Homo sapiens: one gene and its partner. The protein of the gene in region 1 purifies or fractionates together with the protein of each later gene. This does not show direct contact. Each region holds a gene or a part of one and is shown in the gene's direction. Other genes may lie near its edges.

The links. The genes of interacting proteins can lie anywhere in the genome.
Region 2: the proteins of CHRDL2 (region 1) and RMND5A purify together in Homo sapiens (affinity purification with mass spectrometry; one large-scale study listed by BioGRID and IntAct). This does not show direct contact.

What each region holds. Positions count from the first base shown.
Region 1 is NC_000011.10:74,728,059-74,733,518, reverse strand, and holds the start of CHRDL2 (chordin-like protein 2 isoform 2 precursor), read left to right. Parts: upstream 1-2,092; 5' UTR 2,093-2,630; coding exon 2,631-2,712; intron 2,713-5,460. UniProt on the Homo sapiens protein: May inhibit BMPs activity by blocking their interaction with their receptors. Has a negative regulator effect on the cartilage formation/regeneration from immature mesenchymal cells, by preventing or reducing the rate of matrix accumulation.
Region 2 is NC_000002.12:86,754,126-86,759,057, forward strand, and holds part of RMND5A (E3 ubiquitin-protein transferase RMND5A), read left to right. Parts: intron 1-4,932.

The sequences.
Region 1 (5,460 bases):
GGAAAGTTCAAGTAAGGAATGAAGATGGCCGGGTGCGGTGGCTCATGCTTGTAATCCCAGCACTTTGGGAGGCTGAGGTGAGTGGATCAGCTGAGGTCAGGAGTTCAAGACCAGCTTGGCCAACATGGCGAAACCCCATCTCTACTAAAAATACAAAAATTATAGGTGGTGCATGCCTGTAATCCCAGCTACTCGGGAGGCTGAGGCAGAAGAATCGCTTGAACCCAGAGGCAGAGGTTGCAGTGAGCCCAGATCACGCCACTGCACTCCAGCCTGGGCGACAAGCGCAAAACTCCATCTCAAAAAAAAAAAAAAAAGGAATGAAGTTGGCCTCAACTCTGGGGATAATAGGGATGGACAGGAGGGCTGAGATGGTGGAGGCCTTTTTTGAAGTATGATGGGCAGGATGTAGGGGAACCCATCTTAATCCACTTCTTACATCTAAGACATGAATATATGTGCACAGCACATTTTAAACAAAGAGAAAGGAAAAGATCACTGTCCCAAACCCTTGGGATGAGATTGTTTATGCAATTAAGCAGCACAGGATTTAACTCTGAGATCCCTGGAAGCAAAGGCAAAAAGGGAAGCATGGTGACATGCATAAGCTTGCACTATCTGTTAAAATAAAGAATACTCAGGGGAAAGGAAGAGACTGGCCAGATTAGAGTAGAAATTAAGCCTGAAGGGCACTGGACAGATCATGTTTGTCCCTGATCCTGAGAGCCCTAGGAAGGGCCAGTTTGGGGATCACTGGTTCCTCCTACTGCTCTCTTTTGGAGGGTGGAGATCTTGGGGGTAATACCCTGAAAGCACAGTGCAATGGGGAGCCCAGCCTTGGCCCAGAAAGATACCTTTACAGCCAGCCAGCCAAGTGTTTAAACCCGGAAATATGATTCCCTACCAGAGTGGGATATGGCTCAACATCCCTTCCCACCTCATACTCCTCTGGCACTCTTTGGAGTCTCCATTAGCTCTTCAAGAGAAGCTGGGCAGAAAGTTGAGGTCCAAAGCAAGGATAGATGTATTTACTCAAAGTGGCCCAACAAGTTACGGATGGAGCCAGGACAGTGACTCTGCCCTTTTGATTTCAGAGCTTGTGTGTTTCTGGTCTGGCCAGAGCTGGCTATTCTCTTCTTAGTGTCCTATTAGTGCATGTGTTCATTCAACACAAGAGATGGAGCACCATTTGAGGGCTGGAGGGTGTCAGGGCCCTGTCCTCAGGGAGCTCCCCTTCTGGTGGGAAAGAAAACTCTTTGACAATCAGCTCTCCCTAAAGATGACTGAAGGTGACCATCACTCCCAGAGAAGTGCAGGCCTCACCTGCAAAGGCAAAGGAGAGATCTTGCCTTGATTCGGGAGTGGGAGCGGGGAGCAGAGGAAGACCTCCAGGGGAAGGCACAGGATCCCTATGGGCTGACTTTCCTGAGAATGGCGCATGGGCAGACGGAGTGGGGACAGGGGCCACTGGTATTGTAGGCACCTGGAATTAGGACCCCTTCTCTTTGTGGGGTGAGTGTTTCGACGTTCATTACCTTATTTCATCTTAGCAACACTCGTGGGAAGATAGTAGAGATATTTTAAGATCTTAAAATGCCCATTTTAAAGCTGGGAAAACAGACTCTCCGGTGGCGTGCTGTAGACCACAAACTGAATTAAGAACGCCAGTGTTCTGATTCCATCCATCTGCGGAGTTCCGGGCACGCACCGCCGAGCGCCTTACCCTGAGCCTTCCCGGTACCCGCAGCCCCGACAGCTCAGCCTTCCCCACCTGAAAGTTCCACCTGAGGTCTCCCTCAACTCTGCCCTCCTGCATTCTTGGCGTCGCGGGGAGTCAGGGGTTAAACCCCGTGGCCCGCGTGGCCCCTTCCCCCTCCGCAGCCCCCTCGCCTCCACTCGGCGCCGCGCCTGGAGCGTCCGTCCCGGAGACCCGCACAAGAGAGGAGGGGAAAAAGTGGGCCTGTTTCTCGGGTGGCCAATCCACCGAGCCCGCGGTGCCCCAGAGGAGGCGCCAGCGCTAGGCCAGCGCCAGGCCGGGCTGCCTGCTTCCCGCGGCAAAGTACAAATGCGCCCGAGCGCGGCGCCTGAAGCCCTTGGCGAGCACAGCCGGCCCGCGCTCAGCCTCCCTCCGCGGCCGCCGCGCCGCCGCCGCTGCTGGGACCGCCGCCCCGCCGGGCCCCAGGCCCCCGCGGCCCGACCCCGAGCCCACCGAGCAGGGGGCGCCGGCCGCCTCTAGCCCGCGCGCCCGCAACACCCGCTGGTCCCGCGCGCCTCGCCCGGCGCTGCGCGCTCGGCAGACGCCGGTCCTCTCCCTGCTTTCTCCTCCTCTCCCTCTCACCTTCCCCCTTTCTTTGATCGCCTCTCCCTTCTGCTGGACCTTCCTTCGTCTCTCCATCTCTCCCTCCTTTCCCCGCGTTCTCTTTCCACCTTTCTCTTCTTCCCACCTTAGACCTCCCTTCCTGCCCTCCTTTCCTGCCCACCGCTGCTTCCTGGCCCTTCTCCGACCCCGCTCTAGCAGCAGACCTCCTGGGGTCTGTGGGTTGATCTGTGGCCCCTGTGCCTCCGTGTCCTTTTCGTCTCCCTTCCTCCCGACTCCGCTCCCGGACCAGCGGCCTGACCCTGGGGAAAGGATGGTTCCCGAGGTGAGGGTCCTCTCCTCCTTGCTGGGACTCGCGCTGCTCTGGTTCCCCCTGGACTCCCACGCTCGAGCCCGTAAGTAGACCGGGAGGCTGGGTGGGCAGAGGAGGGATGCGGCCCCTGGAATGTGAGGGACAGCGCCAGGACCTGGACCCCAAGCTCTTCTGACAGCCGTCCAGGCAGCACCTGTGCCGGAGGGGTGGAGACTCCGTGAGGACCAGTATGGGCCGGGGGACCGGAGGAACTCGGCACAACTCAGAACTGAGAGAGGGCTGCTGCCAGGGACCTGAGGAGGGGCACCAAGGGCAGCGGGGGGAGAGGGCAGGGCACTGTGTTTTGGGTTGGGGGAGGACTTACTGTTCCTAGGAGGGAGTCGGGTATGTCTGGCTACAGGTAAGGAGTGTGATGGAGAAGAAAAGGCTTTTTGCCTTTGGAAAGAGCCATTGGACAGAAATGAGAGGTAATTAGGATAACCTTCCCATTCTTTTCTCTCTTTTGATCCTCGCAACTCTCCAGTGAGGTGGGTATTATCATTCGCACTTTACAGATGAGAAAACTTAGGCTGAGCAAGGAGGAACTTGCTAAAACTTACAGAGCGGGTAAGCCATCCAAAGCCAGAACTCTAGTTCCAGATCCCATGCTTTATTCCCTGCCTCACATTGTCTAGAAGGAACCCTGAATTTGCAGTGTGAGACTCTGGGAGGCGGCAGGGCACAGTGAGATAGACCAGCGTCTTCACCATCCCAGCCCCGCTGAATGCCAGCTGCTGGGAGGCCGTCACAGAGTGCACCTCTCTGACCCTGGGTTTCCTAATCTATAAAGCGGAAGTAAAAATCCTAGGAGAGTTGATAGGATTAAATTAGAGAAAAGAGGTAAAGCAGCTAGCACAAGACTGGTGCTTGATAGCTTCCAAAAAAAATCAGTTCCCAATTATGCTTTTCCACATAGATACAGTGTAACATCAAACAGGTTACATCATCAATCTGAGCCTCAGTTTCCTCACTGCGCCCACAATAGGCTGGTGGTCCCCCCTCCCCATGCCCAGCCAATCTCTTAGAATGCTGTGAGGATGGAAAACCAAACCACATTCTCTTAATCAGAAGAAAGGAGCTTCATTCAAGCAGTGGGTTTCTCCAGGACATACATGGCACAGCCTGGGATTAAGACCCTGCGTTCCCAACTCCTAGTCTGGTGCTCTTTCCTCTCCCCAGCTCAGCTCCTCCATCTATGCCTTTCTTTTGCACGTGACATTCTGGAGCTGGTAGTGCTGGACTTTGTTACGGTCTTGTTTCTGCTCATGAGAGCAGGCTGAGTGTCTCTGGCCTGCCAGCAGCATGAGACTCACATAAGTCTTTCCATTACATAGAACAAGTAATGGAATTAGCTCAGTGTTGTATTCAAATCCTGGCCGTGCCCCTTAGAGCTGTGTGACTTTTTGTAAGTCATAACTTCTCTGAGCCTCAATTTCCTAATCTGTCTAAGAGAGATACTAATCCAGAACTTGCAGGGTTCTTGGGAGGATTAAAGGAGGTAACGGATTAAAGTGCCCAGCACAATGCTGTGTACTTAATAAATGTCTCTTCCGCTTTCTTGAACCCTGAGGGTTTCCTCCTAACACCTGCCTCCTATTTCTTAAAAGAGACTTTGCACAGGATGCCCTCCATGCCTGCCTCCCATCCACTTGACACCTTGTTCTTAGTCCCTGCAATTTTTTCTCCAGATATCATTGCCCTTGATGCATCTTGGAAAGATGTCCTAGAACCAGACTGTTATCCTACCCACACCCTGCTTCTTTGCTTCCCATATCTTGTCAGCCTTTCATGGCCTTGCCTAGGTCACACCTCTTCAAGCAAACTCTCCCCGGTGACTTGATCCACTCTGATCTCCCTCGTCTGTGCCTCCCTGGCCTTCAGCTCTGTACCTCTCAGCAGGTCCTGCCAGTATTCCATCTTCCCTACAGCCTTGTAAATACAGATCTCCAGACATGTGAGAAAAAGACTTGGAGCCAACTCATTAGGGTGAGGTGGACTGGCACTCATTGGAGAATGTTAAGATTCCTGGATGTTAGAGCTGGTGAAACTATCAAAAACCATCTGCTTCTACCCATCAATATACCTATACTTAGAGTTAAATTGAAGCCCAGAAGAGAAGAGTGACTTGCCCAAGGTCACACAGCAAATTTATTAAAGAAAAGAACAAAAGCCAGGCACAGTGGTACACACCTGTAGTTCCAGTCACCAGCTACTTGGGAGGCTGAGAGGGAGAGGAACCCTTGAGCTCAGGAGTTCAAGGCTAGCCTGGGGAACATGGTGAGACCTCATCTCTTAAAAAACAACAACAACAACAACAACAAAAAACAGAACAGACCTGGGTCCTGGACCCTGATTTGTCACTTATTGGCTGTGTGAGTTGGGACAGACCACTTCTTTATCTGAGCCTCATTTTGTTTGGTGCTGACAGCCTATGAATCTAGAAAGGATCCTATAGTCATTTGCCAAGATGCTATTTGAAGGTCTCTTACAAAGGTCCTCATCTTAGTTTAAGTGAGATCTCAAGCCTGTTGTGGGTCAGAAATCTGGTGATATCTTAGGTGCTTTCAGAAACAGTGCTAACGGATGGAAATGTTCAAGTCTGTGTGGTATCAGGCTCCTGAGGTGTCGGAGCCCTGAAGAATGCCAAGGGCCTGTGAACACAGGTAACAGTTTGCTCCTCAGGCTATTCAAACAAAAAGTATTCTCTCTTTGGTTCTATTTCCAGCCATAGATTGAGCCCTAATCCCAATACAGACTAAGTTGCAATTCCAGCCACAAGCCAAGCCCTAGT
Region 2 (4,932 bases), on another chromosome or scaffold:
AAGGACCAAGTAGGAAATATTTTAGGCTTTTCATTTCACATAAGGTCTCTGTCGCATATTCTTCATTTTATTTTACAACCCTTTAAAAATTTAAAAACCCATTCTTGGCCATCTGCTATACAAAACAGGCAGCAAGCTGTATGTGGCCTGTGCCATAGTTTGCTGGCCCCAGTCCTAAAATTTTTTACTGTGAGGATTACCAGGTTATTTGTAATAAATAGCTCATAAAATAAAGGGAAGAAACTGGATTATAGAAGCAGTGATTTGTTGTGAGCTTATAGCTTTGGAATCCTGGTATTTTAAAACCAGAAAAATTAACCATCAGTGTTACAGGGTTAGCTGGGAAGTTGACTTTTATAAAATGTACACTTTTTCCCTTAAAATTTAGTTCCACTAACCCATTTAATTCTTCATAGCTTAGTTTTTTCTTTCTAATCATTTCTCAGTTCTTTCTCCTTTTTGAGACAGGGTCTCACTGTCACCCAGGCTAGAGTGCAGTGGCATAATCATGGCTCACTCCAGCCCCAACCCCCCAACCTCCCGCCTTAGCCTCCTGAGTAGTTGGGACTACAGGACTGTGCCGTTATGCCCAGCTAATTAAAAAAAATTTTTTTTTGTAGAGACAGGATCTCACTATGTTACCCAGGCTGGTTTCGAACTCCTGAGCTCAAGTGATTCTCCCACCTCGGCTTCCCAAAGTGCTGGAATTACAGACTTGAGCCTCTGTACTTGGCCATTTCTCAGTTCTGAGAAAATTTTGTGTAGTTCTAAAACCAGCCCAGATGACTAGACAGAAATTCCTGTATAAATTTATATAAAATTCTTGTATAAATTATAATAGATCTCACTTAAGAACTGTATCTCTGTGTAAGATGCATATTACCTTTGTAGAATTTGTTTAAGCAAATTTCAGATTGTGACACATCTGGGAGATAAATTCAACCAAATACCTCTAACACCTCTTAAACAAAATATGGCAACAACTACTTTTTTTTTTTTTTTTCCCAAAGAGACAGAGTCTTGCTCTGTGGCCCAGGCTAGAGTGCAGTGGGATGATCATAGCTCACTGCACACTCTCAAACTCCTGGGCTTAAGTAATCCTCCTGCCCCGGCCTCCTGAGTAGCTAAGACTACAGGTGCACACCACCACACCTGGCTAATTTTTAAATATTTTATAGAGACAGGATTTCTCTATGTCGCTCAGGCTGGTCTCAAACTTCTGGCCTCAAGTGATCCTCCTGGAGCGTCAGCTGCCCGAAGTACTGGGATTATAGGCATGGGCCAATGTGCCCGAGAAAGCCTACATACATATATGAACATGTAATGGGTTTCCCAGTTGTTTTATAGTGATTAGCAAATAATATTTGGGTTGTTATTCAAGGTAATATTCACTTATCTATGCGTTTCTTAGGTTTTTTCATTAAACTTTGTTCATATGTGCTAGTCATGTACGTACTATGACTATATCTGTAGTCACTGGCACATAGTATTTGCTACCTTAGCCTTCAGAGTACTCCAGACTTTTCTCCTAAGAGCCTTTTAAACTTTGTGCGTATATAAGATATGTTTCTTATTGATAAGCATGTTATGTATATTGATTATTTCTGTAAATTTTGTCTATTATTTGTTGCCTTAAAACAATTCCTCTCAGGCAGAGAGAGGACTTGTTCCATAAGTAAAAATTTTCTCATTTCATGTTTCTGGGAGTAGTGTTTAATATCAGCATGAGGGAATGTAGTGGTAATCATAGTTAACTCTGCTTGAGTGGTTATTGTATGCCTAGCATCGTTCTAAGCATTTTACGTGTCTTAACCTATTCAACCCTCATATTAACCTATGAGGTAAGTCATCTTACAGAGAAGCAATTAGGGCCTAGAAGATCCTCTGTGAAAAAAAGTCAAAAGATTATATGAGAAATGCTTTACATAATAGTCCCCCAGTATTCTCATTTGAGGTTCATTTTAACTTATTAAGTGTATCATCAAGCCAGGTGCAGTGGCTCACACCTGTAAGCCCAGCACTTTGGGAAGCTGAGGTGGGCAGATCGCTTGAGCCCAGGAGTTCGAGACCAGCCTGGGCAACATAGCAAAACCCTATCTCTACAAAAAAATAGAAAAATTAGCTGGGTATGGTGGTGTACGCCTGTAGTCTGAACTACTCAGGAGGCTGAAATGGGAGGATCACTTGAGCCCAGGAGGCGGAGTCTGCAGTGAACCAAGACCACACCACCACTCCAGAGCCGAATCCTGTCTCAAAAAATAAGAAAATAAATAGAAGTAAAAACGTACCATCAGTAATCCTACAGTAAAGAAACTCATTTAACTTGGTATAACCCAGTGTTTTCTCTGTGTATTTGACCAATCTTGTTTTCCCTCCAGATAACACATTTAAAACCCATAAAATTGGAGTTATACAAAACATAAGATTTAATAGAAATCGTCATTACAACAATTCAGATTTTTCCAATTCTTGCCTATTGTGGGTGCAGAGCAGATACTGACTAAGCATCTTTCATGAGCTAGGTACAGAAAATTCCCTTTACTCAACTTACAGCAAAAGTTGAATGATATGGGACTCCAATTTGGGGAATTCTAGTTAAGGTACAAGGCGGGAGATATCTGCCAGTTATGCAGCATCCCATTTGTTCCTGCTGGGAAGGATATCATGGAGCTCACAAGGGAAAAGAGGAAGGAGAGGATGCAGCAATTCCTCCAGACTGCCTATGCGGTGAGAAGGCAGAGGCCAGCCAAAAATTTGAGGTGGCTAGGCCGGGCACGGTGGCTCATGCCTGTAATCCCAGCACTTTGGGAGGCCAAGGCGGGCGAATCATCTGAGGTCAGGAGTTCAAGACGAGCCTGACCAACGTGGAGAAACCCCATCTCTATTAAAAATACAAAATTAGCCAGGTATGGTGGCGCATGCCTGTAATCCCAGCTACTCAGGAAGGCTGAGGCAGGAGAATCGCTTGAACCCGGGAGGCGGAGGTTGCGGTGAGCCAAGATCGCGCCACTGCACTCCAGCCTGGGCAACAAGAGTGAAACTCAGTCTCAAAAAAAAAAAAAAAAAAAAAAAAAAAAAAAAAGTGGAGGTGGCTAAAGGCCATTGAGGGCCTAGGGGAATGGTGATATTGTGGAGAGAAGTGGCAGAACAACACCTGATTACATAGATCTAATCAGGACCTTGCCTGCTCCTGTGTTCCGTGCCCTTGTACCTCTGAGTTTGTACAGATTTTCCCCCTCATCCAGATTTCTTTTATGCTCACCCAGATTGTTTTATTTGCTTTTTGAATTTCTCTTGGCGCCTAGAGTAGTGCTTACCTCATAGTAGGCCCTCAATGAATAACAGTAATCTGCAGGAGAATTTAGAGCAAACTTGTCATCCTCTTCCATGGTGGCAGATAGAAAGCCAAAAATAGTGTTAACGAGAGAATAGTAACTTAATACAACGAGGTGGGGGAAATATTAGAAAAAATAGGAACTGTCCTTGTAGCTATGCCATTATTAACATACATATTGAAAGAAAGCACTATCTTTAGGGGAAGCTACTTGGTTGCCTTCCTAAACGTGTCTCAAAGAGTAATACTACCTTGCTGGATTTGCCACAGTCTAGTATCTGACTTTCAGCTTTGCAGACTTGGAAACTTGTTTTTGGTGTCCTTATTTTGTTTTGTTTTCACTAAGAACAGGCCTTTAAAAACGATAAAAACCTGAATTGCTAAGCTGCGTACATAGTTTGGATTATTAGGGGCTGTGAAACAAGCTTGTGGTAGGCAGGTCCATGTGGAAGGCACATGAGCTTGCAAAGCCTGGAGTTGGAACAAGAGGAGATTGTTCTAGAAAATGTTCAAAGTTCTCAGGCTAAAATGTCCTGATGCCATTATGTCCACCATGGAGGTTGTGTTGCAGAGCCGTTGGGCAGTTCAGACTTCATTCACTGACTCCTTTTCTCAAAATTGTCCTTGGCTTGCCTTGGTCGAGTTTTGAGTCAGCATTAAGTATCCCAATAGGTAATAAATAAGAGTACAAAATCAAAAGGCACAACAAGATAAAAATACAGTGAAAAGTAAATCTCCCCACCTTTGCCTTCTAATCACAGTTACTCTCCAAACAGGCAGCCACCATTAACTGTATTATGTATACGTACATTTTTATGCACAAGTGGTTGCATACTATACACAGTGTTCTGCTTTTTACTTGAAAAATTTTGAAGTATTTGCCTATATCAGAGCATATAGAACTATTTTTTTTTTTTGGTGGCTGCTTAGTGTTCTCTTTTAGGGATTATACCTTAATTTTATTTAGCCAGTTCCTATGGATGGACGTTTGTAGTTTCCGATATTTTGCTTTATAAGTGATGCAGCATTGAATATCCGTTGCACATTATTTTGAGCATGCCTGCTAGATATGTTGTCCAATATGGTGACCACTCCTATGTGTAGCTCTTACTAATCTCTGCATTACTGAGAACCTCATGTAAAAGGGTGTGTGTGTGTGTCTTAAATAGAGTCAGATATGCAATACCATAGTTTGTGTGGTTTCTTAAATAGCATGTGAAAAGGACAGAGACTCACACCAACTCTGAGATGAGTTTAATGGTAGTAGTTCCAGCAGTGGACTCAGCCCATAGCTGAAAAATTACCATTTGAAAATATCTAAGAAATGAAACACTGAGTGTTCTTTTCAGTCTCTAAAGCAAAGTTACAGAGTTCCTCACTTTTTTGACTGAACTTTTTGTCAGGTTTGCCATTCTCTGAATTTTTTTAAGCATTTGATTCATGTTACTAAGGACATTTCACCAGGTCCACACCTGTGGAGTAAAAATCAATGTCATTCATTCCCCTGAACTTCAGCTTTTACCCCCAAGAGTATAGCCTTAAAGGAAATTAGAAAAAGAGGTTTTTGTAAGCCTTTAAATGCTGTGAAAGGTTACAGT